7 linked regions of the Homo sapiens genome follow. The protein of the gene in region 7 purifies or fractionates together with the protein of the main gene of each other region. This does not show direct contact. Each region holds a gene or a part of one and is shown on either strand. Other genes may lie near its edges. The genes, in order: MFSD8, SLC47A1, SLC22A5, EDNRB, TSPAN15, SLC12A7 and KLRC4.

Region 1 (4,309 bases), on a different chromosome or scaffold from region 7:
ACACACAATAGAAAGAGTTAACAAGTTCACCTTAACGTGAGCATTATCTTTTCAAATAATCAAGACATGCAGAACAGACAAAATGCCTTCTTATGTTCCAAGATTAATTTCTTAAAAATAAGCCTTAGAACTGTCAAATTAGTCTTCAAAAAAGAAACTTTTTTTTTTCAAACGTGATATGGTTGGGAGTGGTAAAGAGGAAAGGAAGAAGAGAAACAATGTTTTTAGATGTATTATATGCCAAACATATTAGTTCCTAATATATTTAAAGTGTTTAACACTATATATGTCATTCCATATAAACAAACCTCTTCTGAGTCAAAGGAGATAAGAAAAAAATAAAAATAATGTAGCTTACCTGAGAAAAATACCAGAACCCTAGATGCCCATACTTTGAAATCAATATACTAGAATTTGAATAAAAAACCAGATATATCTAAGTTAGGGAATCAAGAAGTAAATTATTTGATTCTAAAAAAATAATAAAATTGTTTGAGTGACTGATTTAGAGCTCAGACAAAATCTTTCTTCTTTTAATGACAAATGACAATTATTAAATATTGAAAGGATAAAATTAGAAAATAATAATTTAATGGCCACTTTCTATGCTATAATGGAAGGATCATCAATGGATGCTAAAACAACTGACTGGAAGATTGTTAAGGAGAGGATAGTCAAAGGCCCTCAAATGTCACCCCAGTGTCTGCTTACTAATTACAAAATGGAACATGAACCTTTATAATTGAAAGATATAGCAGTCACCCTCTTAACAAGTGGTCATGTTTGGCATTCCCAGTAGTGGGATGTCCTGGCATCCTGTACCTTTTGATGTAATGTAGTGGGGTGTTCTCAACATAACCCATGTGATATTCTTGCCAGAAATGTTTGACCAGGATCTATTTTGAAATAAACAGTCCATAAATCCAGAATATTAGATGTTCTGCAGAAAACCTGACCTAGACTCTTCAAAGATTTTAATGGTGACAAGAAAGAGATAGGTCAAAGGATAGTTTTAGGTTAGGGGAGTCTAAAAAGACCTAACAACAAATGCATAAACATTGATTATCTCCTGCATATGGCTCCTGGTTTTTTTTATTTTTGTTTTTTTAAAGAATATAAGGTATATTTTTGGAACAATTGGAAAAACTTGAGTATTAACTATGTATTGCATGATATTCTTGAATTAATATTGTATTTCTAGTTGTAACAGTGATGGAGTTGCGTAAAAGAATTTCTTTGTTCTTGGGAGGTGCAAGCTGCAATTAAGTACTTGGGACAAAGTATCACAATGTCTGCAACCTACTTTTGGGTAGTTTGGCAAAAGAGGTGCGTGTGGGTGTGTATGTACCTGCCGAAAGATTTCGGCAGTGTGGAAAAGGCTAACAGTTAGTGACAGGATATACAGGTGTTCGTGATTTTTTCATCTTTTCTATAGATTTAACATTTTTCAAAATAAAAAGATTTACTTTTTCCTTTTTTAATTAAAAAAGTATAACTTCAATGAAAAAAATTATCTTTCTACCTTGTTGGAGACAGTAGAAATATAGGAGAATGCAACTGTCCTTCAATCAAGTGACCATATTTATTACATTTTCTTAGCTTTGATGATTCAGACAAATATGTCACATATCTGATTGAATTTCCAGAGGCTTCTTTCTTGTATGACCGGGTACAAAAAGGAATGCTGCATTTCTAAGATGATTTGCTTAACTTTTAAAATTCCTTTCTATAATCACTGCTGCATTCTGGCATTAGTTCCCCATTTGAGATTTTCCTTCCAGTAAAACTGTAGTACTACAGTTTTATCCTGTTCAACATTTCTATTACAAACTGAAATACTCCAAATGATAGCATGCTTGTCAAACTTGTGACTTAAAAACTAAAAGGAATACACAATATAGTGGAGTGAACTGATCAGCAAAATGAGTTAGATAAAATTTAACAACGGCCAGGCGCAGTGGCTCATGCCTGTAATCCCAGCACTTTGGGAGGCCAAAGCCGGGCAGACTGCTTGAGGTCAGGAGTTCAAGATCAGCCTGGCCAACATGGTGAAACCCTGTCTCTACTAAAAATACAAAAATTAGCCAGGCGTGGTGGTGGATGCCTGTAGCCCCAGCTACTTAGGAGGCTGAGGCAGGAGAATCACTTGAACCTGGGAGGCAGAGGTTGCAGTGAGCAGAGATTGTGCCACTGCACTCCAGCCTGGGCAACAGACAGTCTGTCTCAAAAAAATAAATAAATAAATAAGAGAGAGAAAAGAAAGAAGTGTGTGCTCAGTGACAGAACAGTGTAGTGGTATAACAGTTACAGAAATAAACTGAAAATATTCTATAAAGATATGCCCTATAAGGACAGATGCCCTAATAATACAAATTTTACAGAGACTAGGCTAAGGTTGCAAAAAAATTTTGAAATCATTTGTAACTTGGATCAGTAACGTGAGCTACAAACGGTTTTTACAGATGAATATTTATCAGTTTGATGACAGAAAACACCAACTCTGAAGTGCAATTAAGGAAAATGTCATCCCCTCCCCCACCAAATTCTATCCCTTTCATTAACAAACCTATATTATACTTATTATTATATTTTAAATGTCATTACTAAAAAATTTTGTGGAATTTGTTTTCTGGTTATCTAAACACCTATATAATATCCTTGATTTTTCCCCTTGCCCTAAACAAGCCTAAAATATTTACAATCTGGGACTTTACAGGAAATGTTTTCCAACCCCTGTTGTCTTAAATAAAGCTCCATAGAGGGGGTCAGTGGGGAGCACTGAGGATTCAAGAGGCCAGCTCCACCAGACCAGCAAATAATAATCAACCTTGTTAGTGAGGAAAAGTTGGTGGTGACCTAGACATGTTTGTGCAATATATTCAAAGTGAACAGGTCCTGCCAACTAGTTGTACATAGGTTCACTTTACTAGGGAATATACTTGTTTTTAAAGACATATACTTATTATTTTCAAAATACTCCCTTTTTGTTTTTAAAATGCTAAATCTAGAACCTCAATCAGAGGTATTGATTATTGGCAGGAACACCTAAATCTGGACAGATCCTAATGAGCATCAATCACTTTGATGAAATCAAAGCTAAGAGTATGAAAAAAAATTCTCTTTTGTACAAGGTGACAGAATGTACCAGAAGACCACATTTAAACATAACTCAGGGATCCTGCAATTATCTGGAAAATAGCTAAAAACCAGGACGAAGCAAAAAGAATTCTGAGGCCGGGCACGGTGGCTCACACCTGTAATCCCAGCACTTTGGGAGGCCGAGGCGGGCGGATCACGAGGTCAGGAGATCGAGACCATCCTGGCTAACACGGTGAAACCCCGTCTCTACTAAAAATACAAAAAAAATTAGCCCGGCGTGGTGACGGGCGCCTGTAGTCCCAGCTACTCTACTCGGGAGGCTGAGGCAGAAGAATGGCGTGAACCCGGGAGGCGGAGCTTGCAGTGAGCCGAGATTGCGCCACTGCACTCCAGCCTGGGTGACAGAGCGAGACTCCGTCTCAAAAAAAAAAAAAAAAAAAAAGAATTTCTGAGTTCTGAGAAAACCAAATGTCATGAAGTCCACGCACTCAAGCTTATGCACTTAACTAGTAGGAAAGACATTTAGCTCTCAGTCAGAACTACCAGGTTGTAATGACACACAGTTACATTAAGCATAGATCCAGGGTTATCAAAGCTATAACAAACAAGAAGCCCCAAATTAAAGCTGGTGGAAAGAGTATGGTGACAGCAACAACAATAAAACAACTGTTGCTGCCAGATTTCAAAAACATGATGCAGAACAGTCTGCGAGGAAAACAGTCTGTCAGAAAAACTAAAAAGCAGACGTAAGTACTTAAAAAGTATAGCAACGGGCCTCAGAGCCTATTGAGACATTTGGGACTGTTTGCTTCTACACCAGCACTTTGGGAGGCTGAGGTGGGTGGATCACTTGAGGTCAGGAGTTCCAGATCAGCCTGGCCACCTGGTGAAACCCTGTCTTTACCAAAAATACAAAAATTAGCCGTGTCTGGTGGCCCACGTCTGTTAATCCCAGCTACTCCAGAAGCTGAGGCAGGAGAATCGCTTGAACCTGGGAGGCAGAGGTGGCAGTGAGCCAAAATCGCACCACTGCACTCCAGACTAGCCCACAGAGCAAGACCCCGTCTCAAAAAAAAGTATAGCAGTGTAGAATAAATTGGTATAGAAGCAACAGTCCCAAATGTCTCAATAGGCTCTGAGGACATCACTCTATTAAAATTCATATCAGCATCGATATTCATTTTAATGATCTCAAGATAAAATCAAGTAA
Region 2 (4,309 bases), on a different chromosome or scaffold from region 7:
AGACAGGAAGAATAAGTTTTGAGATCAATTGCACACCAGGGTGACTGTAGTCAATGTACTGCACATTTTGAATTAACTAAGTAAATTTCAAATGTCTCACCATAAAAAATAAGTGGTGATAAGTATGTTAATTAGCTTAATTTAATCATTCCACATTTTATACATATATCAAAACACCACACTGTACCCCATAAATGTATACAACTATAATTTGTCAATTTAAAGTTTAAAAGATATAATATAGAGAATTTAAATTATTTCCTTAATATTTTATACTGATTGCACGTTGCAATAATTTTAGACATATTGTGTTACATAAAATACATTACTTTAAAAATAAAAATAAATTAGATTTCTATAATATTTGCATTAGCTAGGCAATTGGCAAATCCAAACTATGAATCGCACCAGAAACTCAGCTAAATAATTTTCTGCACTATCATGCAAGCCCAATGAACTTTGCATTGGCAATACTATTCTTTGAACAACTCCTGTATTTTTAATTAAAATATTATTGAACTTGAGAAAAATGTGCCACATAAAGGAACATACTGAACTGGAAGTTCCCTGTAGGTATCAGTTGACTTCTCACCACCTCTGAGCCTGCCAAGTACAGATGAATCAAAACAAGCCACGCTTTAAGTCAGTCACTACTCACCCCAAAGATAAATGTCCAGGTTTTCATATCATCATTTATTAACTGCCAATATGTTCCAAATTATTATTTTAGAAATCAAAGCTGGGCAGTCATTTATTTCCGTACTTTTTAAAAAGATTAGCTCTGGTAATTTCAGATGCTGTGGATTAAGTTTTTTCTTCCAAATGTGGGAAGGTGCTCAAGTCCGCCCCCTTCCTTCTGTGCTGTTCACACCGACCACGTGTATGGCCTTGTGGGGAGCTCTGTGGGGGCACAGAGCTAAGGCTGCACAAGGAGGGAGGTGGAGGCTGCGGAGTGCGATGAGGGTGATGAGAAGGGCACTGGCCACCCATTGCCCTCCAAGGATCCAGCCATGCTGCTTGGTGAGCACATGGGGCACTGCTCTAGGATGCAGAGTGCCACCGTGAGTGCAGACCCTGCAGCACCCCACGCACGCAGGACCGCCTACGATAGCCCTGGCCCTGCAGAGTCACCCTCAGGGGCTCACATGCTGTCTCTAAAGAACAGCACGAAACACACTAAGGGGATGCTTCCAAATGCTTCTTCAGCGGTCCCTGCTGTTGCCTCCTTTAGAGAAGTGAGGGCTGGATGACTCAGGATAGGAGGTTGGTAGAAAGGGCATCTGTGCTCAAGTGTGTCAGCGTGGAAGATCGCCCGCAGGGGTGTGAGGGGCAGGACCACATAGCCTTGGGGCCCTGGCTAGAGCTGGAGGTCACCTCCTGAACGCCCCCTACACTCTCTGACAAGACACAGAATGGACGTGGGCGAGCTCCCGAGTTTCAGAGGTGAGCCTCAGTCAAAGACCCGTGTGCTCCGACGGTCATTTCCTGGGCTGGTGAGCAGCTAAGCCCTGCCTGCAGAGGTTAGAGCTTACCCATCACTCCAAGTGTGGTTGCAAACATCAGCGCGATCCCGATGGGGAGGCCAACCACATAGTACCCAATGGTATTCACAATGGCTCCAACCTTCTGATTTCCACTCCCCCTCAGAACACCACCACTCGTGCACTGCAGGCAGAGAGCATTCCATCACTGTGAACACATCCGGCGCTCTTGAAACACTCCCATCTCCCGAGCACTTCATATTCTGTGCTAAAATCCATGGTAAGGTGACAGTATCCTTCTAAACGAAATGTGGTAACAATATTCAATCTTCCTACCTATGCTGGCCCCTCCTCTCAGCTGAAATTTACCACCATCAGAAGATCATAACAGTGCTTAGGGGACTACTACATAATACTTACAGCAAGAGCTTCAAAGAGGTGGGAAACAGCATAAATTGGAACCACCTGAGCCACCAGATTAATGATGTCTCTGTTAGGAAAATAAAGCACGTGGTGATTAGGAGACAAAGTGGAGAAAGAAGTATATAGCTTTCTGGCTAGGCGCAGTGGCTCATGCCTGTAATCTCAGCACTTTGGGAGGCTGAGGCGGGAGGATCACCTGAGGTCAGGAGTTTGAGACCAGCCTGGCCAACATGGTGAAACCCCGTATCTACTAAAAATATAAAATTAGCCAGGCCTGGTGGTGGGTACCTGTAATCCCAGCTACTCAGGAGGCTGAGGCAGGAGAATCGCTTGAACCCGGGAGGCAGAGGTTGCAGTGAGCTGAGATCTCATCACTGCACTTCAGCCTGAATGACAGAGCGAGACTGTCTTAAAAAAAAAAGTATATAGCTTTCTGCATATTACAGACATGCACATGCATTGAGGCCAGCAGCCTAGTCAGGGACAGTTCACCTGTTGCTGGGTCCATAGAGGAAACTAACTGCATGTTGTATCTCACAGCTTTTAGAAAAAATAGGCAGCACCACACCCTTGTCTTCAAGAGATATGTTTCAAGTCCCCCAGTGGATGCCTGAAATCGCAGAGAGGACTGAACCCTAAATACATTGTGTTTTCCTTATACACAAATACATTATGATAATGTTAATTCATAATTTGGGCACAGTAAGAGAGTAACAACAGTAGTAATAAAGTAGGCCATAACCACATGCCAGCATCACTACTTTTGTGCTTTGGGATTACTAGCACTGTGATACCAAAACAGTCAATCTGAAATAACTAGCGGGTGGAAAGCACACACAGCGTGGAGATGTTGGACAAAGGGATGATTTCATGTCCCAGGCGGGACGTGAGATTTCCTCCTAATACTCATAACCGCACGCAATTGAAAACTTATGAATTGTTTATTTCTGGAATTTTCCACTTAAGATTTTCAGACCACCAGGCACGGTGGCTCACGCCTGTAATTCCAGCACTTTGGGAGGCCGAGGCGGGCGGATCACAAGGTCAGGAGATCGAGACCATCCTGGCTAACATGGTGAAACCCCGTCTCTACTAAAAATACAAAAAAATTAGCCGGGCGTGGTGGCGGGCGCCTGTAGTCCCAGCTGCTGGGGAGGCTGAGACAGGAGAATGGCGTGAACCTGGGAGGCAGAGCTCGCAGTGAGCTGAGATCATGCCACTGCACTCCAGCCTGGGCGACAGAGCGAGAGTCCATCTCAAAAAAAAAAAAAAAAAAAAAGATTTTCAGACCAAAATTGACTGCAGGTGACTAAACCTTGGAAAGCAAAACCAAGGATAAAGAGGGGTTACCGCATAGTCCATCTGGTCAGTGTAGACAAATCAAGGGATTTGGTGACATCCCTCCCCCGTTCCCCATCAGCTGAAAAGAAGTTTGGCTGGGCACAGTGGCACGCACCTATCATCCCGGCAAGTTTGGATGCTATGATCATCCTTCTTTTAAGATGATGCCACAGGCCAAGTCTGACTGTGTCTCCTAGTAAGCCTCAGTGAAGCACTACAGAGTAAAAATTAAGTTCCCTCTATGGAACGAAGGTTGGTAAAGGCCATAGATATATTCTGCAGAATTATCCTTGGTTCCTAGAAATGGAACCCCTAAAGCTAGAGACTTGGATTCTAACCTCTGCATGTGAAGGGAGATGAGAAAAATGCTGCCCTGACCTGGGGAAGCAGGAAATTCACAACACCCTTGGAGTGAGTTTTGTCACTCTAAACTAGAACCTAGAAGACTGTCTCCCAATAAATACTTGTTTAATTACTAAATAAGAAATCCAGCACTGGCCCAGGAGTGGTGGCTCATGCCTGTAATCCCTGCACTTTGGGAGGCCAAGGCAGGCAGATCACCTGAGGTGGTGAGTTCGAGACCAGCCTGACCAACATGGAGAACTCCCATCTCTTCTAAAAATACAAAATTAGCAGGTGTGGTGGTGCATGCCTGTAATCCCAGCTACTCGGGAGGCTGAGGCAGGAGAATCACTTGAAACCAGGAGGCGGAGATTGCGATGAGCCGAGATCGTGCCATTGCACTCCAGCCTGGGCAACAAGAGCGAAACTCCATCTCAAAAAAAAGAAAAGAAAAGAAATCCAGCACTGAACAAGATGATCACTTCCTCCTCACCAAAAAGGACAGAAATATAATTATTTTATTCAAATTTTATTTTTTGAATAGGTAACATGCACATGGTCAAAAAATGGAACAATATGAACAAGATAGTAAGCAAAGTCTTACTGCAATGCCCTTCCAGTTTGCCCCAGTACCAGCCCTGCCTCCTCCAGGTAACAATTCCTAGCACGTTCCATGTTTGTCTAGTGTCTATGAAAATATAAGCAAATACAAATGTATATTC
Region 3 (4,309 bases), on a different chromosome or scaffold from region 7:
TCTGAAGAGCAGTGTTGCCATCTGCTGGGCTGAGGAGATGGGTGCAAGATGGGCTCCGGAAGCCTGGCTTCTGTGCATGTCTATGTCAGCCCAGGCCCTGCTACACTCTCCTCCCTGTCCCCGGCACCAACAGAAGCTTCTGCACTGGCCTTTTAGCTTCTCTTCTCTCCTCACCCTACCCCTGATTTATCCAACAGATTAGTCAGATACTCTACCTAAAATAGCATGTTTGGCCAGGTGCAGTGGTTCACTCCTATAATCCCAGCACTTTAGGAGGCCAAGGCCGGTGGATCATTTGAGGCTAGGAGTTCCAGACCAGCCTGGCCAACGCAGTGAAACCCGTCTCTCCAAAGAAATACAAAAAAAATTAGCCAAGTGTGGTGGCAGGCACCTGTAGTCCCAGCTACTCGGGAGGCTGAGACATGAGAATCGCTTGAACTGGGGAGGCGGAGGTTGCAGTAAGTGGAAATCACGCCACTGCACTACAGCCTGGGCAACAGAGACTTTGTCTGAGAAAAAAAAAAGAAAAAAAAAGAAAAGAAAAAGAAAAGAAAAAAAGGAAAAAAATTAGCATGTTTATCAAGGCACTTGAGTGCTCTATGGATATTATTTTCCACCTTGCTGGGACCAGGTAGCCGCCCCCCACCCTCGGTCATGACTGGGCCCCATGATGTGCGGCTTACTCTCCCACTATGCCCTGAAATGCTCTCTGCTCCACTTGGGCTGGTGATCTCACCTTCTCCACCTGCAAGGGGTGATTCCCACCTTAGCACCTCTGCAGTGTTCCCCTCTTGGTCTGGAATGGCCTCTTCTCTGCCTGTTCAACTCCTCTACCTTGGTGGTGCAGAAGGAGCCTGGCTTCCTCCATGTGGCTACCCTGAGGACTCTTGCTTTTGGTGCCAGTGCCTGTGGCATGAGGCTTCAGCAGCACACAGCCAGAACTAGGGCCTACACTGTCCTGCCCTGAGGCTTGGGAACTTCCTACAGGGCATGCTGGACCCCATCTTCTCACAGCTACTGCTATTTTTCCCCACACTTGGGGCAACCCAGCACAGGGCTGAGAGCAAGTCTGTTGCTGTCATGGGATTCTGTTTTGTTTTGGCTCTTTTGAGTGTGGAGAAAACATTCTGAAATAATTTATAATCTATGCTTCCTGTCTCTGGGAGACAAAATAGGGATTCATGGGTTGTTGCTGCCCTCTAGTGAAGGCCAGACAGAAATCATCCTGCCAGTGGGCACATGGGGCACAAGGTCACACTCACCACCAGAGTGCCACGCATAGCACCCCCGGCATCGTCAGCGCCACCAGCAGCATCCGCCAGTCTCGGATGAAGTAAGCAAACAGTGGCAGCACCATGTAGCCAAATGCATAAAATATGCACACTCCTAACGTAGAGAATATTATACGAACTGACTTGCCAAGAATTTCTGTCCCTGTTCAAAACAAGGGAGGTCGAGTTAGCAGTTTAATTTGGGTTCCTTCCTTATTAATTTTTTATGGTATCTTTGTGAATACACAGACAAGAAAACAGCGAGAACTCTCTCTAAGTTCATGGCGCTAGGGAGCGGATGGCGTTCTGAACCCCTCCTGTCTGACTGTCTCCTGGGGGTACATCCCTGTGGCCTCTCAGGCCCCCAAGCAACAGTTCTCTCTTGAAAATTTCGCCATGTTCTGAAGCCATGTGCTAAAGATGCCATGGTAGGCCCCCTTTAATCCTCACATGAGGAAGAATTTATTAAAAGTGAAGTCATTACTAAGTCAGCACATGCTGACTTAAGCCTCAAGGAAAGAATATTAAATATAAAAAGAAAAAACAACCCTTTCAACAATACAACCCAAGGAACTCAAAGGCCTTATCAGCTAGAGTCAGGTTCCTCCAAACACAGGCCGGCCTGGCAGCTTCTCAGTGACAACAGGCTGGCACATTTGAGACAAAGCCCTGCAGTGTGCACTCTGAATTAAAACCCTGAAGGTGACGAAAGCCCCTTCCTATCAATTTATTCTTGTCCGTAGATATCACCAGCCACAGTGCTCTGCAGACAAGGGGTTCTCTACCTTAGCAAGCTTGCCAGTCACAGCCCCTCCTCCTCCAACCATGCCGCCCTCTTTCTGGGGCTGGCTCAGCCCTGTGCAGTGGCAGGCCCTTTTTGTAAATGGAGGATCTCTGGTGAGTCCTAGTAAATTGACCATCAAGTACTAAGACCAAGGAGCCACAGCCCAGAGGCCAGAAAAGAACTGGAAATCAGAAGTCAGGCCATTGTGCTGCTGGGGACCCCAGGCTGGTCTCATGTCTGGCTCAGTTTCCCTGCCTGTAAGTAAGGTTCACCAGGAAGCTCTGGCTAGTTTTGTTAGAAACCCTGTCCCCCTTGAGGGACATCACAGTTGTCTCCAGAAAGGTAGGTGATGGGATGATGGTGAAATACAGGATCAAGTACTCAACTCCAACCTGATGGCCATACCCAGGACAAATGCTGCCACATAGTTGGAGATCTGGCCCATGCCTACAAGGACAAACAGCACGACAAACATCTCAAAATTCTTCGAGAAGATCTGCAGGAAGCTGAAGCCTGTCTGCATGCCCATGGTCACGAACAGCACATTCTTCCGGCCAAACCTGGGAAGAAAAGGAGAGTGACAGATAACCAGCTGGAAAAGGGCAGCAGGAATGGGCTCCACCAAGTGGGGCTTTCTCAAGATCCATCCAGTAAGTGGGTGTGAACAGTGTTGCCAGAATACTGGCTGCCAGGGACAGTCTCGGTCTCACAGTGCCCATGCTATTTCTCCCCCTCCCCACTCCCCATGACAAATGTACAGCCTGGGTACCAGGGTTGCCTAAAAAGCAATGCTACAATTATGATAATGATTGCAAGAGACTGAAATACATCAATTATTTAATCCATACATTCATAATGATATTTTTTTTAAAAAAGAATCTGCCAAATTTGGAGAATAACAGAGAAACAATTCATTATAAATGAAAACTGGCAAATAAAGAGAAAGAAACATTTGTCCTGATTTTCCTTTGTAAACTATGTGAACAGCAACCAATAATAGATAAGAGGTAGTATCATGTACAAAAGTATTCTAACTTTTAAATGAAAAGGTAATAAAATTAGAATAATACCATTTATAGCCCCCAATGGATTAATAGATCTATGCATTATATACTAATTACTGTTAACATCATAAAGAGACAGTCAGGAATTGCATGCTTCCTATGGTCTGGCCAAAAGGACTGAACCTGAATCAGAACCTGAATCTCAAGTCTCTGGATCCAACTGCCAATTTTGAGGAAATGCAGAGCATAGAGGAATGTGCTGAACTGCATCATCAGTGTGCAATCAACAAATCCAGACTGGGAAATTCTATAGGTGGAATAGCTCAGGTTCTTCATAGATAATCAGTAAGGCATAGAAGGCGATAGAAGGAGAATCCATAGATTAAGTAGACTAAAAGACATCAAATATATTAAGTGGGCAACACTAAATTTGTGTCAAGGATGCATATTTCGATAATAAAACTAAAAAAACTCACAAGGAAGTGATTATTACAGGAGTCAGGCTAGCGGTTACTTAATGGGGAGAGAGAGAGGATGCTGTAATTGGGATGGGGCACATGGACAGGGCTTCTTAGTGGACAGCAAAGTTCTACTGCTCGACTTGGTGGTGGTCATAAGGTTATTTCTCTGAAAAAAATTCATTAAGCTACACATTTGTTCTGTGTGGTTTTCTGTATCCGTGCTCATTTTAAAAAGTTTTTAAAATTGGGTTTATTTTGGTTTGTTTTAAAGAGAGTGCCACAAACAGGAGGAAAAAGTCAAGCTAGTGGGAAGCAGTGGGTTCAGTTTGAGTCTGGCCAGTACTGGCTGACACCCACTTTCATTCAATGTTTATTGAGCATCTATTATAGAGGGCACTTGGATATCAATAAATTAAAAAAGATGCTGTTTCTGCCCTTAAGGAGTGTCATAGTATAACTGGTGAAACACATATTAACCACATTTTAATCTAACAACACGCTACTGAATATACAATTACACACTGAGTCAAGTGCACTGAAGGATCGGCATGCAGGTTAATGAGAGGCACAAGGAAGGAAGCTACCCTGGACTGGGGGTAAGGGTTGGGGAACTGGACATTCAGGGAGGGTCTCCTTGATCATGGGACACTGAGATGGGAAAAAATAGTTGACGATGGGGGATTTAAGGTGTAGGGACCAAGCTCTCAATGATATTCACAGTATAGTGCGGAAGACCAACATTAATCCTATAATAACACTTTTTTTCCCCCAATTTCTGGTAGACGTTTT
Region 4 (4,309 bases), on a different chromosome or scaffold from region 7:
TAAAGAACTTAATCATTTATTAGCATTTGGCATGTTTCTCTAAAAATAATCAACTATAGCATATTAGCTACACAGAGATACCCTTATATGGTTTTCTTTGTGAATTGAAGAACATGGCTCCCTGGCCTGGAGACAACAGGGTCTTGGCTACGTTATCCTTTTGTACAACTATGGAAATATCTTCAATCTTGAAAGACTCATTTTAAATGAGCAAACTGAGAAATGTAAACCTTTTGATAGATAAGCCTTACCATATTGAAAGAAAACCTTACCTTGACATTTGTAGAGGCTTGGATTTACGGAGTGACCAAGTGGCAGATCAAAGGCACACACAAGAAATACCATCAAATTGAACCTAGGGAACCTTGCATTGCCCAAGGCCAAGTGCTTACTGACCATTTTGTCACAGAAATCTATGACCAACATGTGAAACAGTGAATTGGGAATATGAAGTCTGAGTTTCTGGTTGATTTGAATTCTGCTATCAACCTGTTATCTGACTATGACAATACTTTAATACAGAAGGAATCAAGCTTTCTTTTTCTTTTTCATTTGGACATCAGTAAAAATATGAGTGGAAAAAGCCCACTACTCTTATGTCTTCTGTATAACATCATTTGTCTGAAGCATTTGTGTAGTATTGACAGTTGCAGCCACTATGATAGATGGGTGTCAGGGTATTTGCTGTATTGTTAACTGATTCCAGGTCATTCAAGCTAAAAGCCTGGCTTTTAATTAACACGTTTTAAAAGTTAATACTTTAAATGCACTTAATTGGTGCTCCTTAAAAATTATTTTGCTTTACATAAATCATACAGGTTCCACTTTTGGTTCAGAATGCTTATGCTGGTAAAATATCTTTAAATATTACTAAAATATTTCAGTTACTTGACTGGAAATGAGAACATTGTTATTAAACTGGGATAAATTAGACTCCTCTCCCAATGATACCCTTACTTCTTGTGTTGCTATATATGCATATGCTTCAGTTTACTGATTGGAATATGTGAATATACTTCAGTTTACTGACTGGAAAATTATAACTTCAAAAGTTGGTGGTGTTCCATCAACTTTTACTTTTAACTACAAAACTAGTTAATTATACATAAACTTGTTAAGTACCAGAAGTAGTCTAAGAGGATAGTGCAAAAGGTAAATTTGTTCAGAAAGATAATCCTGATTGTGTCACAAGCAGAAAATGTCTGATTACCTGCCAAGGTCACTTCACTCGAAACTCATTTGTGGGTTCAGTGAAGCAATTCCGCATTTTGACATACCAGCATTTTAATGTTATATGTTCCCACCCTTAACTAGTTAAACGTTAAAGATCAGCAGTTTTGCCTTTCAGAACTATGAATGCAGCCTCTTTGCCTCTAATAGTAGCCTACAGTTCTTAACTGTAAAACCATCTAGAAGCACTCCAGTGGGTCACCAGCCTAATTTCTAGCTCTCCATCACCACTGGACACCTGATTACCTTTGGATCCTTACCAAACTAGTTAATGTGGATATTGGTATTTGTCTTATCAGTTTGCAAGTAGATTTGTTTTTAAATGCAATTTCTTTACACATAAAGGAAGCTATATTTGAGAGCTAACTTCTTTAACTCAGTTATCCATGTAAATATAACATAAAGAGAGTTAATAAAATTCAGAAGTAATTTAAGAACTCACTATTTGCTCAAGAATTTTTAACTTCTCCCAACCTACAACCAAGTTTTGTTAAATATCATTGCCAAAGCAAACCAAGCCAAATCAACTAACCAACCAAACAACAACATAAACACATTGATAGCATCCCCAAGTATACCCGGCTGTCTTGCTTTTTATCCAGCTTTGATATCTATGCTTCTACAACTTAGTAGTGGAACACCAGGCTCTCATGTGAACAAATATCTAGATTACCCCATTTATTTTAGGATATATAGGAAGGGCAAAATAAGTAGCTTGTGAATAAGGAGAAATTCATCCTAACGTCAGGTAGTCAAGCACTGGCTTTTGGTTCTGATGTATATGTAGACTATGTAAATATTAAGCATGGTGGCCCATATACATATTACAGATAAACATTAATATGCATTTACATCCATATTGAGATATTATATAAAATAGTGATTAATACCAAGAGTACAAGAATAACTTTCTAGCACAATATGGCAATATCTTTCAAAATTACAATGCACACACATTTTGATTTAATAATTCCAGTTATAAAAATTTACCCTTCAGATGTAGTCACACATGTGTGCAAAGCCATATGTACAAACATGTCGTTTGTAGTCATGTTTGTCACGACAAAAGCTGGAAAACAAAGAATACTCAAAACGCACATACACACACATACACACATTTTAATAACATTTATCATTTCTTGCTATATGCCATGCCCTGTGCCAAATGATAGTCATCTTTTTACTTATATATTCTTATAAAACTTAACATTTTAATGTATGTACATGTACACGTGCATATATATTTAAATAAATATCTCCTTTGGATGCCTGAAGTTTTCATTGTTCTTCTGGTTGGTGTTGTGTAATGTAGGCATAGCCCTAGTGTGTGCCTATGAGAAGCGTAAGCAACGCTTATTATTTTCTGCATGTTTACATGAGTTTAAAGTTCTTCAGCAGCCTCAACTTGCTAAGTGTCCTCAGACACTTCCCTAGCCTTCAACACAGGATTTCACCCACAACACAGGAGACCTGTGAGAGTGGTATGATTCTTCCTAAAAGTTTCCAGGGACCCAGCTCCTTGAGGAAGTCCAGGCAGATCAGACATGTTTCCCAATGCTTTTCAGCTTCCCACTGCAGCAACTCCAGATAAAGTCCCACCAATTCCACAGCCTGAAGACTGTAGCTTCCAATAAGAGCTATGACATTTTGTGATTTGTCAACTTTACTGAACTCTATATTCATTAAACTCTAGATTAATGGAATAGATTCACATTGACATTTCTGGGCCTCTGGGCCCTTAGTGTGCCAACAAGAGAGTAGGAGAATTTCACAAACCCCCAGAAATTGTGTATATTGAATTCTCAAAGAGAATTATAAAACCCCACCAAAAAAATTAGAAATCACTGGTTTAGATTTAAGCCTCTCATATTAGGATATATTAAATATAGCCTTCATAACTCATTTAAATTACTTTTTTCTGAATGATCATACCTGACTACTCTGAAATTCTAAATGCATTAAAAAAACTACGTTGCCACAATTATTTAGGAGAATAAATGGCTTTTAACTGGTCCTGGATTTGATATTTTGGTAAATTAAGCCATTAGAATAACTTCCACTGATATTACACACTACAGACCAGCTGAAGGGGGTTTCAAGAGACCGAAATCCTGACTCAAATTAATTTCTGAAAATGTTTACCAAGTATTCTACTGTGGGATAGCATATTATTTGCCATAATTCCACCAAATGCTCCCAAATGAGATCCTAAAACAATACTCAAGGTTGGAGATGACCATGCAGTGCCTGAGCATGCTTTGTGCAGTGGGATGGGGTGGACCACAGGGTCTTGGGCTGGATGATCTGCTTTCAAGCCCCAGTTTCATTACTTTGTAGTGGTATGACATTAGGCAAGTTACTTCTTCACCTCTCTGACAAGTAGTTTGCCTAGATCTAAAGCAGGAATGATAACGATACCTCCTCTACAGGGTTGTTATAGTGACTTAATGAAATAAACCAAGTGCCTAGTGCATCATTAACTGGTAGCCATTATTATGATATTGTGTCTCAAGCTAAACCTAAGGCCACAAGGTAGGATTCAATAATGATGACCTTAGTGATGGGACGTAATGTGATGAATGTGTTTGTGACCCATGTAGATTAATGGATGGACAGATTTATAATGACTCATTGGCTTATTTCAGAAGTAAAAACACAGTCATGTTAAGACTGGATGGCTTCAGGGAAAAGGATGTAACTTCCTAGGGAAATCATATGGGAGTTTGAAATGAAAGGGAAACTGTATGACCTCTTGGGGAGTCAGAAATTCTCTAGTTTATTACAAATACTCATTTAACCAGACAGAGGAAATAAGATGGTTCTGGAAGAGCTGATTTATATCTGTCCTGGAGGCAGCACACCAGAACTAAAAAAATGTTCTCAATCCCACCTTCTACACAGCACTTCAGCTACTGTCTGATTTAGAAAGGTTTCTAACTGGGCTGGACATGTGGGGTTTCCTGACCCCCTAAACAGAACTTTCATAAAATCCTGTGCCAACCTAGCAAAACTAGATTTTAATCTCCCTTTGGGAAGAGATCTTGTTAGATTTATTTTAAATTTATCACAACACCTTGTA
Region 5 (3,500 bases), on a different chromosome or scaffold from region 7:
TGTCTTTAACAGCCCTTCTCATTCTTAGTCTATGGCTCTTGAGCAGCAAGGCTAGAGAGGAAGGCAGGAAAAGAACGACTAATCCATGACTAGTTGATGGAGTGTTCATCATGTGCCAGGCACCACTCTAAGCTCTTCAGATGTATTAATCCATCTAATCTGCTTAGCAACTCTTCAGGTAGGTTAGGTGCATGGAAGTTATGTCTAGGCCACTTAACCTTTAAGTGTCAGAGCTGGGATTTGAACCCAGGCAACCTGGTACACAGCCCACACTCTTAACCATTAAACTATAAGAAATGTAAGAAATCACAGGCCAAGCTCTAATAAGCAGGTTCATCCTTGGAGAAAGCCCAGAAAGAGTTCCTATTGCCTCTGGCATTTGCTGCCTCCACCACCTACCCACCCTCAGCTCCTCCCTACTTGCCCCCAACTCCCACCAAGTCCTTTTCTTCCTGATTAGTCAACACTCCCCAGCCATGACACCTTTACCCACTTGAAAGTCCTACCCTGTTATCAAGGAAACAGGCTTGGTGCTCTGTGGAGAGTCCGTAGCACCATGATCAGCCCTGCCCACTTTGCAAAGTCAAGGCCTCAGCAGACCTGACCACTGCGGGTTACACCCCCAGCCAGGCCTCTGCCCCAAGCTGGATCCTCGCCTTGTAGGTACAAGTGGGACTCAATCACCATCATGCAACATGCCTCCCCTGAGCACCTACTGTGTGCACAGGCCCCAGGGGCAGCATTCAGAGGAGGATATGGATGAACTACAATCCTGACCTCTGGGAGCCCACAGTCCAGCAAGGAAAAGCAGTCCTGTAAACGGATCTCTAAGATACCCCGTGGGCAGTGCTAAAATTAGAGGTGTGTCCCCAATGGGCTGAGGGCGCATGTGTCAGAATGATTCACCCTGTGTGGTGGGAAAAGGAGGCTCTAAGTGCCTCAGCGTGAGCTCATTTCTCCCGCAGACATCCCCATGACTTACTGGAAGGGCCAAGGAGCACCTACCTGAGGATGCAGGGACCTGGGGTACATGCCAGCTCTGACAAGTGAGCCTCAAACACACCCTTTTGCAGCCCCAAAGTTCCCTGCCGAAAACAAGAGGGCCCTGAGTGTGGGACAGATAACCATAAGTGGTTTAGGGGTATACCTATCATAGGGACTTACAGACTGAGCTTTCCTCGTTCAATGCCCTTTCGACCCCTCCGATTGCATCAAGGAGCGGGTCTCAGTTTGGGTGCTAGTTTGTCTTTCAGCCCCTCAAGCACTTGCCAACCTACCTTTTGAACAGAGAGGGTAGGCGTCAGGGTCACAGCCTTCAGCACCCATGACATCCAGCTAGGATTTAGTATCATTGTTTTGTTTTCCCTGTACTGTACTTATTTTAAACCTTTACCTGCTATTTATGATGGGCGTCTTGGTTTCCCATTCATAATACTGATATAAAGCCTCCTTTTAAAAATAAATTTAAAGGCGTGCATATTCAGGGCAACTTGAACCTATGTGCCTGGAAAATAAAAAATATATACTTTAAAAAAGGGAAAAAAAGGAAAAGAAATTTAAGTTTAAAAAGGAAGTTTAGGCTGGACACAGTGACTCACGCCTGTAATCCCAGCACTTTGGGAGGCCCAGGCTGGTGGATCATTTAAGGTCAGGAGGTCGAGACAGTCTGGTCAACATGGTAGAACCCCGTCTCTACCAAAAATACAAAAATTAGCCCATCGTGGTAGTAGGCGCCTGTAGTCCTAGCTACTCGGGAGGCTGAGGCAGGAGAATCGCTTGAGCCTGGAAGGCAGAGGCTGCAGTGAGCCAAGATCACACCATTGTACTCCAGTCTAGGTGAAAGAGCGAGGCTCTGTCTCAAAAAAAAAAAAAAGTAAGTAAATTTAAATAAACATATTAAGTAAATAATATTACAATTGGTGTCACCTCTATATAGGACAATTTAATAACATCAAAATGTTAAATGCACATACAAAAACAGGCAAAGCTATTCTATACTGCTAGATAATCCAGTGGTGATCACCCACAAAGGTAAGAGATAGTGCCTAGAAGAGGGTTTGAGGGGTATCTGCCTTCTGCTGTCCATTCTGCTGGTTGACCTGGGGGCTCAGTGTACAGGTGTGTTCACTTTGTGAAAACTCATCAAGCTGTATATACTGATGGCAGGTGCGTGTCTGCATGTATAACATATATTCATATACCCCTTAACTCAACAACCCCACTCCTAGAATTACTCCACAGACATATACACCCATGCAAAATGACACATTCAGAGATACTCACTGTGTCACTGTTCTCAGTGAAAGAAAGAAAGGAAGAAAGAAAGAGACGGGGGGGGGAGAGAGAGAGAGAGAGAGAAAGAAAGAAAGAAAGAGAAAGAAAGAAAGAAAAGAGAAAGAAAGAAAGAGAGAGAGAGAAGAAAGAAAGAAAGAGAAAGAAAGAGAGGGAAAGAAAGACTGGGAACAACCTAAGAGTTCCCCAGCTGGGGACTATTAAATAAATGTGGCATAGCCTAGAGTGGAATCTATGTAGCCAACACACAGAATGAGGCAGCTCCTAGCAGATCTCCATAATTCACGTGGATTTAAATTTAAGTGAAAGAGGGGCTACATACGTAGTTCTGTGTATAGTGTGCTACCTTATTTTAAATATACATATGTTTGTCCTAGGACATCCTTTGACTACGATAGCTCAGAAAAGAGTGACAGGAAACTGATAACAAAGGCCTCCTCTGGACTGGGCAGGCCAGGAGAGAGGGGTAGGAGGGGAGGCTTGTCACTAACCACTACCCTTTCCTTTTTTTTTTTTTTTTTTTTGAGACTGTCACCAGGCTGGAATGCAGTGGCGCTATCTAGGCTCACTGCAACCTCCGCTTCCCGGGTTCTAGCGTTTCTCCACCTCAGCCCTCGCTGTAGCTGAAACTACAGGCACACGCCACCATACCCAGCTAATTTTTGTATTTTTAGTAAAGACGGGGTTCCGCCATGTTGGCCAGGACGGTCTTGATCTCTTAACCTCACGATCCGCCCGCCTCAGCCTCCCAAAGTGCTGGGATTACACCTCACCCGGCCTTACCCTTTTCTACTTCTAAATTTTGTAACAAGCCCATGCATGCATTTCTATCAGTAGTAATTTATTTTTTATTTTTTATTTTCTGCAACAGAGTCTCATGCAGGCTGGAGTGCAGTGGCACAATCTCAACTCACTTCAACCTCCGTCTCCTGAGCTCAGGTGATCCTCCTACCTCAGCCTCCCAAGTAGCTGTGACTACAGGTGCATGCCACCACGCCCAGCTAATTTTTGTATTTTTAGTAGAGACAGAGTTTCATCATGTTGCCCAGGCTGGTCTCGAACTCCCAGGTTCAAGCAATCTGCCCATCTTGGCCTTCCAAAGTGCTAGGATTACAGGCATGAGCCACAATGCCTGGTCAATAGTAATTTTTTTTTTTAAACCGAGTCTTACACTGTCACCCAACTACAGTGCCGTGGCACGATGTCAG
Region 6 (4,309 bases), on a different chromosome or scaffold from region 7:
CACTGGGGACCGGGGACTGGGGACCAGGGACCGGGGACCAGGCCAGGCTGCAGCAGGAACGCTGTACTGTACAGCCGTCCCCTCATCCATGGTTCGGCCACCCGTGGTCCAAACGTGCTAAATGAAGCGTTCTAGACGTAAACAATTCACACGTTTTCCACCGCGCGGTGCCGAGTAGTGAGGTGGAACCCAGCAACCTCCCCCCGCGCCAGCACAGCCACGCTGCAGCCGCTCCCTCCCCGAGGCCCTCGGCGGCGTCCTGGCCGGGTCAGCTGTCACAATCTCAGTGTCTGAGTTCAAGCCACCCTCGTGCCACGTGCCAACGGCCAAGAGCACAGGAGTGCCGCCCCCGACGTATAAGCCAGGCCTGTACGTGGAAAACAGTCTACACAGGGCCGTAGCGTCAAGCATCGGCAGGGGGTCTCAGGACGGGTCCCCGAGGGGGAGGGCAGCTGTGCTTCCCTAAAACGGGCTTGTGGGGTTGCAGCTGTTCTGCCTCCCTCTGTTTTGAGGCCTCTATGAGGCTGTTCCTTCAGGGGCTCCCTCCACGCAGAGACGGCAAAACCGCGGGAGCCTCAAGGGGCTTGGCTGCTGGCCCTTTCTGGACCTGCTCCCTGCGGGCTCTGGTGGCCACTCCCATGTTCCAGGACCCTGGGCCGCCTCCCAGCTGCTCCTCCAAAAGGACAAGAAAAGAGCCCCTCCAAGCACCTCTGGGAGGGAGAAGACACCCAGGCCCCAGCAGCAGCCAGGGCCACACCCATGACGCTCACTGCACCTGACCGTGCTCAGGGCCACCGGCCACCCCTGAAACCTGCCAGACCCCTCACCAGCCCTCCTGCCACTGAGGAGGGTCTTCATGCTCAGACCCGGCCACGAGGGTACCTCGGCCCACCTCACCGTTGGGTTTCCTGTAATCCCCAGAACGAGCCCACGGGGGTTCCCGCCACGGTCACACCCAGCCCACCCCTTGCGGGGAGCTCGGCGTCAAGGATGATGGACGAGAGGCGGGCAGAGCCCATGGGACCTGGCCCCAGCCCCACACCCACCCACGGCTCAGAGGCCCCGAGACTCACGGGATGTCCGGGGGGTCGAAGGCAGACTTGATGACGCCGGCATAGATGGCCAGGATGGACAGCACGACGCAGGCCAGGAAGACCAGCGCCAGCTTGTTGACATACTTGACGCCCACGAAGACCACCAGGGCCATGAGCACGAGCGTGCACGTGCCGTACACACGCATGTTGTGCAGCATGGCGGCCGCCTCGCCACCTGCAGCCTCCGCCTGGAAGATGGCCGCACCCGGGGAGATGTACGTCTGTGGGAACAAGGCCGGTCGGGAGGCCGTCCCCGGACACAACTCCCCAGTGCCCGTCCCTCCCGCAAGCCCCCAGCGCCACACAGGGGCCTCCTCCCAACAGGTGCCGGGGCCATCGGGACGCATCCGTGCTGGACGGAGCCCGCGGGGGTCAGCGCACAGGCAAGGGACGGAGCCCGCGGGGGTCAGCGCACAGGCGAGGGACGGAGCCCGCGGGGGTCAGCGCACAGGCGAGGGACGGAGCCCGCGGGGGTCAGCGCACAGGCCATGGACAGCCAGGGGCCTGAACGTTTCCCAGGAACCACCCGGGAGCCTTAGAGTAAAGCAACTTCAGGACCCGGGGCATCCGCATGTCCGCACTCAAAAGAAACACCTTCTGCTAAGAGGAATGTGACTGCTGCCCAGAGAGCTCGGCCCACCCCGGCTGGACGTCCTGGACACACACAGGGTCTGACCACGCCGGCGGGGGGCAACCTCTGTTCTGCCCAGATTCAAGGGAAGGGACGGAGACGTGAGACAGTGCTGCTCAGCTCCCTCAAGACCAGGACAGGACTGGGGTGCAGCAGGCATGGAGGGCATGGCACCCACCCCCACCAAAGGGGATCCTGGGAGTGCGGCAGCCACGGCACCCGGGGCAGGTGGAAAGATGGAGGGACATGGCCAGGGGACTCGGGTTGGGACGGGTGTGGGTGCGACCCCACTGAAAGGTTTCAGAACCTTCTTGGCCATGTGGCTCTCTTCAGGAACCCAGGAGGCCAGGAACCAGGTCTGGCAGCAGAGGGAGGGGCAGAAAGACTGGGGACAGGGGCTCAGGTGAGCGTCTCTGAAGCCCTGCAGGGACAGCGGGTTTCAGAACCTCAGCAGGAAGGACAGCACCCGTCGGCCAGAGAAGGGCGGTTCCCGTCCCCACGAGGACCAAGGAACTCAGGCCACAGCTCTCAGCTGTGCTCAGGTGATGTGGGACATGCTTTGAGCATGCCTGTTTTGAGAAGGTGATGACATCACCTGGTTGTACATTGCTGGGCTCTGGGACCCTCGGCCAAGTGCCCAGATCAGGCAGAGAAGAGGCTGGGATCCTGGCAAAAGGTTCTTCTAAGCCGAGTTCCAGCCCTGCTCCTAAAACAGCTCCGACTGCAGGACTGCACCTACGCGGGGCTCAGATCTACAGTCCAGATGTCTACCCAGCTCATGCCAGGCACGCCTCACGGAGGGCAGCAATGGTGCTCAAGGGGGACACAGGTCGCTGCTGAGTGGACGCTGCCCAGTGGCTTCCGCCATGGCCAGAGCCCAGGAGAGCCCAGGGGCAGCCAGGGCAGTGGGGTCAGGATGGCTCAGTGTGCTGTGTGTGCCACAGAGTGGGTCAGGCAGGGCCCCTTGGCATCCTGCCACAGACTGTGGGGTGGGAACCCTTCCAAAGCAGCACACTTACCAGAAAAATCTCGATGGTCCCCAAAATATACATGGCCCCTGCAAACGTCGTGCCCAGGTAGAAGCAGAGGCCGACAGCGCCTCCAAACTCGGGTCCCAGCGAGCGCGATATCATGTAGTAGGACCCGCCAGCTGCGGAGACAAAGGCGGCAGCCGCGGGTCAGGGGCGCACTTGGACTCGGACCCGAGGTGCGGTCTGCGCTGCCATTCACGGGCAAAGGAGGGCCTGTCTCTGCGAAGGCAGCGTGTAGACCCTCGTCCACCCGCAAAGCAGCACATGGAGACGCTTCCACGGTGAACTCTCCCCTCCCGAGGCTCGGCACACGTTCCACACCAAGAGCACGCGCTCTCATGGACATGAGGACCAGGTGAGATCAGGGATAAGGCTCTCTGGGGAGCAGGAGGCCCCAGCAGGTCCCAGAAAAAGTCCCGCGTACATCAGTGGCAGCCCCAGCCCCCACTTCCACTAAGTTTTGCTTATGAAAAAGGCAAAAGAGAAACTAGGATGTTCAGGAGTCGTCTCGTGTACTGTGAACCACGCACGCTATCACTGGCGGGAAAGCCGGGCGCAACCCCAGGGCTGCCTGGAGAACACAGCTCTCCCTGCTCTGAGCAGTGCGTGTGGCATGTGGAAGGGGTCCTAATGGACGCGGCCATCGTGAAGCAGAGACTGGTCCCTTGGCTGCGGAGGGAGACCCCTGGTGAAGGCCCTCGTGCTCTCCTGAGGCCGGGGAAGTCCGCTGAGCACCAAGCGATGCCCCCGTGGGGATGGGGACCAGCTGCGTGAGGACCTGGTGCTGAGCAAGCCCAGCCGTTAACACGCGCAGCACACATGCACTCAGAAGCAGACGTGGCAGCGTCTCCGTTCACTAGTTATTTCGTATCGTAATTCGTTTATTACTAATTAACAGTATCATCTCAGTTTACTAGTTATTACGTATTGTAATTAACTTATTACTAATTAATATCATCTCGGTTCACTAGTTATTTAGTTATTATGTATTGTAATTAACTTATTACTAATTAACAAGGTCAGGGCAGTGTTTTGTCTTCACCTTCCCTCGTGAGATACAGGTTCCAAGAACTCAGCCTATGGCACACGCTGGGCTACAGGAGCCACTGGAATCGCCCGTGCCTCCCCCTCCCCAGCCCGCTGCCTGGTGGGCACTGCCTACCCTGGCAAGAGACGGTCACCACGCAGCAAAATGGGGAAGAAAACCAAACAGCCGTGACCTCACGGCTCAAACGCCAGAGGAGCCAGTGGAGAACACGCAGAAGGCCCGGCTGAGACCCCCAGGCAGCCCCCGGCCCGGCCTCGCCAAGCGGCCTCCTCGCGGTTGCCGTGCGGCAAAACACAGACTCCTCTAACAGGACTCAGGGCCGCGGCTGGCGGGCACCCCTTACCTGGGACCACACCGTTGGTAGCGATCGCACTCATGGAAATGGCGGTCAGCATTGTCTGCAAAAAGACAGGCAGCCATCTGAGGAGAGTTTTCCAACAGCCTGCCGGCATCGCAACACTCCCAAGTCAGGGTCTATGACCCGGCTCCCGCCGAATGCCAGCCC
Region 7 (4,953 bases):
ACCCCAGAATCAGGGATCAACAGAGTGTCCGGGCATCTTCAGTCCCCCACTCAGCAGAAGAAAGTGATCTAGTCCTCTGTTTCTCAGAACCAAATCTGGTAACAGGAGGTGGGTCAGCTAAGCCCATTCCCACTCTGTATTGAAAGGGAGTCCTGCCAGCAACATTAGGCAAGCCTGGTACCACTGGCAAGGATGACCTACCAGGAGGCCTGCTACCAGTTAGGAGCTAGAGGAAGTGCTTCTCCTCCCAAACCAAAAGACATCAGGGTAGGTGCGGTGAGAGGGATCAGCAAAGGAACCGCATGACTACACGTGCCCATCCAGGTTCCTCTTTGTTCCTGAGGGCACGAGACTCACTTCCCCATCCAGAGACACAGGACTGAACAGATTGTAAATGTTCTATGCACATCATGCAGCAATGAAAAGCAACAAACAACAGCTAACTGCATTATTGCACAAATATCATATAGGAGTAAAAGAAGACACACATGAAAATACACATTGTATGATTCCCTTGACATAAATTCTGGAACAGGCAAAGCTTATTTATCACATTAAACATCAATACAAAGGTTTGGAGAGGAGGCAGGAAAAGTGAGGAAGGCATACACAGGAGCAGGACTGCTGGGGCTGGAAACTTCTATTTCATGATCTGCCCTGTATCATGAATCCATTCACTTTGTGATCAATATGCATGACCATGACATGCTTAGTTTTCTTTATATTTATTTTGTGATAAAAACATTTATAGAAGCATGGGTTTCCATGAAAAGCAAAACTGGAAATAACCAAATGTGCATTAACAGTATATGAATATAAAAATATTATGAAGTCAGTTGAATACTACACAGACTTAAAAATATATGAAGTAAATATATGTATAAACATATGGATGATTTCTACAAATATGATATTGACAGAAATAAGCTTTTAGTAAAGTGTTGAAACATTTACGTCTTACCATTTCTTCCTCATTATCTATAGAAAGCAGATCAGAGTTCTTCGAAGCACAGGCCAGCAAACTCTTTCTTCCCAAGTTCTTCTTTCCTTACCAATGTAATAACAACTGTTGGAATATGTAATCCACTCCTCAGGACAATGGCCACAATGACGTGCTAAATAAAAATATGAATTACTATGCAAAACAATATGTTTACAAATGAAAATTATTTTATATATTTGCAAAGCTATAAACATACAGGTACACAATATCTGCATCCTCATAAGTTGTTAAATATATATTTTAAAATAACGAGTCACTCATACGCACATGCACAATAAAAGGTCCACCTCTCATCCCTTAATTGTGTTCCCATACAAAACAAGCCCGCCAACAAAAATCCACCCTACACATCTTAAACATCACTGAACAAAACTGCTTTTTAAGTATAGTAAAATTATTTATCTCTTATCATCTTATAGTAGTAGGAAATTTCAGTTAATTAAATGCAACAAGAGGGTATAATGATTTTAACTGAGCATTTCTACTTATTATTGGAGAAAAGGACATGCCCTCATATAATCTTTATTTTATAAACATTTATGGCTCATTGTTATAGTTTATTTTCCCAAAACATTTTATTATCATTTTGCATCCCTTTAGAGACAAAATATAAACTGTACTAACATCAGAACATTGACAATCATAATGTACCTTTCTGCATTCTTCTATTCAGGGAAAAATTGTTCTGCTCCAGTACTCCAATACCTAGAAAAATTAAAGTGATTCTTACAAAATTAATATCTAGACAAATTATAATAAATTCAGTTGCTTACTTTGAAATACAAAATTTAAAATTATTTTAAATTGGAACAATCTGAAATAAAAATGACTTTTCTATAAAAATAATGAGATCTTTAAAACAAATATTTTTAAAGCCATTAGCATAAAACTTCACCATCTCTTATAGTATTTGATCTAACCACTTTCAAAAATTAATTTGTTTTTCTAAATATTTTTTCTCTTAAAACATGTCTTTGAGTCATGAAATCAGAATACATCTCTCTGTGTGTGTATCATATATACATATATATTTAGTACACACAAAAAAATAAATGTTTTCTACAATTATTCTGTTATTTATAAATTTGAAAAGTTCAGAAGCAGCATATTATCTTGGGGTTCAGAGATATACATTAAACAGAGAATTCTAATCCTCATTATTATGAAATGTTTCAAGGCGCTTCCAATCATTATAGTGAAAAGTTCCCTTATAATCTTTCAAGAATATGCTTACAAGGAATAAGAACTATTGTTTTTAACACAGTGGCCATCAGGACAATGCAAATGATTCCTAGGACCTCAGCAGTGAGCTTCTCTGGAGGTGGCAGTAAACCTGCAGGGAGAGAAAGAGGCACTGAGAGAGGGGAGATAGAGAGTTGATGAGAAGGTTTACGTACAAGAGAACTCACGTGCACAGGAAAACATAATGATAAACTCTGTCCTCTAAATCTACATCTACTCTAGTAATCTTTCTCTCAGAATATACCATTTCATTATCAGTAAATATAATGCTCCATGAGTTGTTAATCACAAATTACAATTGAACAATGCCTGAATAAAATCAGGCTTCAGATTTCATATTAGAATATTAGATCCTGACTTTGACCTCTGATTCTCACAAGTGCAAAATATTCCCTAATCTTTCCCCACCTTTCTGCATTCAACTGCACATCCTAGAACAATAATATTGAAGATCTATTTAATGTTTTACCTTTGCAGTGATATGTCTTGTCATTCCCTTGATGATCCGAAGAAGCATTTTGAAGGTTTAATTCTACTTGGAATATTTCCTGTTTGGTTCCTGAAATGGAGATTTTATTGCCCTTAAGTTTCCTTTGCTGCCTCTTTGGGTCCTGGGCCAGACTCACTTCTGAGTAGGTTCCTCTTTGTTTATTCATCTCTGCAGCTGTGTGATGTCAGGGACTGTGCTCTATGATAACTGCACTTAAGAAGCTATAAGTGGTGTATATTTTGACAGGATCCCTGGTATAGGCAAACTGCATGTGTTGGAGGCTGAGTAGTAATGTTCATTTTGCTGTTGACCAATATAAAAGTCTGGTACTAATTTCCTAAAGTTTTAAACTGAAATCTCTTTAAACAATAGGTCACTTTTTAAAAGGCCTTCTATATTTGACATAATATTATTAATGGGAACAATAAAAAACAATACATTTGTGAAAACTAAGAAGTAACTGAATATAAATATCTTTATTAATTTAAAATCAGATTCTACAGAAATATTTTATCACCAATAGAATACCTGTGTAAAAAACTAAAATTGAAATTTGAAAATAAAATGCACTAATTGTATGACAATTTTAAAATTCATTAATGTAAGGATTGAGCGCTAAAGATGGAGGAATAATTTGTTGGCATATAGAACAACTTTTAATACTAAAATACATTAAGTTAGTGACTTACATTCGTTTACTAAAAGGGCATGAGGTCTTGGCAAATGTTTTTTATTCTGAATGATTGAGGAAAACAGAAAAATTGTTAAAATTTTAAAGAAATATTTTATACCTTGTAAAACATTACATTAACTTATGCATAAACTAAATACTACTGAAAAAGATTTAACTCTTTATTTTACAGAATTGATTGGTAATTGATTTAATGACTAAAATAGGAAAACTGAAAATGATAAATATAAGTTTGGACCATCTATGAAAGAACACTTTAAGTTCAAACTTTCAGAAAGACCCTGTGGTTGTTTTAAAAGGCAGCGAGGGTCACTTTGGTTGTGTAAGTAATTGTAATAAATCAGAAAATATAATTTAATAATCTAGTCAATGAGCTCTGTAGCCAGTGAGACCTAAAATTAATTACAGCTTTGAAACTCATAATGCATGACCTTTACAAAGTTACTTGGTGTCTACAACACCAGTTTACTAATCTAGATTGGGGAAAATAATTTATGAAGTATAATGTATATAAAACCCTTAACATACAACCTGGCACACATTAGTCCTCAATACATATTAGATATTTTAATTATTTTTAACACAATTGCCATTTTATTATTTCTAATTCATACTGAGTGTGTAAAATAACTAATGAGGTAGGAGTCTCATGTCAGTGTAGTACATCTTTTTTGCAATGTTTGTTTGGCTCAATTTTTTTTAGGTCGTCCTATTATTTATAATTAAGTTTAGATTTGCATTTTATGGAAACTACTTCATTATTACATTCTTAAAAAAATAAAATCTGCTTCAATTAAATATAAGTATGTGTATGAGAAATTATGTTTGACATTCACAATTTGATGTATCCATTAAAAATGCATTTTTAAAGTCTGGGCTAAATATAAAGTATTATTACATCTATAATGATTATAAAATTTCAAATTAATTCTTCATTGTCGTGATATTTATCGGTTTCACTCTAAATTATATTGATTAACAAACCTATTATGATGTATGCATGTGCTTGACTAATTCTCCACAGGCAATAATGTAAATACTTTAAGAAATCCTCAAACATATATTATATTTTGGGTTGCTTTTCACCCTGAATTATTCATGTACAGACAGTTCTACTTTGATTTTATTCTGTATTAACTTTACCTTGTTGCATCACATTTAATATTTACAATTTTCTACTAAAGGAGATGAGCTAGTAGAGAAACAGGAGACTAGCAACACATACCTTCTGTCATCAGAAAGTCACACGCCCCTTAGTGGAGAGGTCAGGTTACCTCTTAACGACACAAAAGACATCTGTGATCCGGTGAAACCCCGTCTCTACTAAAAATACAAAAACTTAGCCGGGTGTGGTGGCGGGCGCCTGTAGCTGCTTGGGAGGCTGAGGCAGGAGAACGGTTGAACCCGGGAGGCGTAGCTTGCAGTGAGCTGAGATCGGGAGCCACTGCACTCCAGCCTGGGCGACAGAGCGAGACTCTGTCTCAGAAAAAAACAAAAAACAAAAAACAGATATCTCTGATCTTCACA

Evidence for each region.
Region 1: the proteins of KLRC4 (region 7) and MFSD8 purify together in Homo sapiens (affinity purification with mass spectrometry; one large-scale study listed by BioGRID and IntAct). This does not show direct contact.
Region 2: the proteins of KLRC4 (region 7) and SLC47A1 purify together in Homo sapiens (affinity purification with mass spectrometry; one large-scale study listed by BioGRID and IntAct). This does not show direct contact.
Region 3: the proteins of KLRC4 (region 7) and SLC22A5 purify together in Homo sapiens (affinity purification with mass spectrometry; one large-scale study listed by BioGRID and IntAct). This does not show direct contact.
Region 4: the proteins of KLRC4 (region 7) and EDNRB purify together in Homo sapiens (affinity purification with mass spectrometry; one large-scale study listed by BioGRID and IntAct). This does not show direct contact.
Region 5: the proteins of KLRC4 (region 7) and TSPAN15 purify together in Homo sapiens (affinity purification with mass spectrometry; one large-scale study listed by BioGRID and IntAct). This does not show direct contact.
Region 6: the proteins of KLRC4 (region 7) and SLC12A7 purify together in Homo sapiens (affinity purification with mass spectrometry; one large-scale study listed by BioGRID and IntAct). This does not show direct contact.

What each region holds. Positions count from the first base shown.
Region 1 is NC_000004.12:127,958,301-127,962,609, forward strand, and holds part of MFSD8 (major facilitator superfamily domain-containing protein 8), read right to left. Parts: intron 1-4,309. UniProt on the Homo sapiens protein: Outward-rectifying chloride channel involved in endolysosomal chloride homeostasis, membrane fusion and function. Conducts chloride currents up to hundreds of picoamperes.
Region 2 is NC_000017.11:19,564,452-19,568,760, reverse strand, and holds part of SLC47A1 (multidrug and toxin extrusion protein 1), read right to left. Parts: intron 4,239-4,309; exon of another isoform or gene 4,132-4,238; intron 1,972-4,131; coding exon 1,902-1,971; intron 1,666-1,901; coding exon 1,533-1,665; intron 1-1,532.
Region 3 is NC_000005.10:132,382,453-132,386,761, reverse strand, and holds part of SLC22A5 (organic cation/carnitine transporter 2), read right to left. Parts: exon of another isoform or gene 2,616-4,309; coding exon 2,461-2,615; coding exon of another isoform or gene 2,442-2,460; intron 1,435-2,441; coding exon 1,263-1,434; intron 1-1,262. UniProt on the Homo sapiens protein: Sodium-ion dependent, high affinity carnitine transporter. Involved in the active cellular uptake of carnitine. Transports one sodium ion with one molecule of carnitine.
Region 4 is NC_000013.11:77,911,967-77,916,275, forward strand, and holds part of EDNRB (endothelin receptor type B isoform 1 precursor), read right to left. Parts: intron 1-4,309. UniProt on the Homo sapiens protein: Non-specific receptor for endothelin 1, 2, and 3. Mediates its action by association with G proteins that activate a phosphatidylinositol-calcium second messenger system.
Region 5 is NC_000010.11:69,454,465-69,457,964, reverse strand, and holds part of TSPAN15 (tetraspanin-15), read right to left. Parts: intron 1-3,500. UniProt on the Homo sapiens protein: Part of TspanC8 subgroup, composed of 6 members that interact with the transmembrane metalloprotease ADAM10.
Region 6 is NC_000005.10:1,084,159-1,088,467, forward strand, and holds part of SLC12A7 (solute carrier family 12 member 7), read right to left. Parts: intron 4,203-4,309; coding exon 4,148-4,202; intron 2,876-4,147; coding exon 2,745-2,875; intron 1,316-2,744; coding exon 1,074-1,315; intron 1-1,073. UniProt on the Homo sapiens protein: Mediates electroneutral potassium-chloride cotransport when activated by cell swelling. May mediate K(+) uptake into Deiters' cells in the cochlea and contribute to K(+) recycling in the inner ear.
Region 7 is NC_000012.12:10,406,675-10,411,627, forward strand, and holds KLRC4 (NKG2-F type II integral membrane protein), read right to left. Parts: upstream 3,084-4,953; 5' UTR 2,902-3,083; coding exon 2,715-2,901; intron 2,337-2,714; coding exon 2,238-2,336; intron 1,709-2,237; coding exon 1,655-1,708; intron 1,116-1,654; coding exon 979-1,115; 3' UTR 710-978; downstream 1-709. UniProt on the Homo sapiens protein: May play a role as a receptor for the recognition of MHC class I HLA-E molecules by NK cells.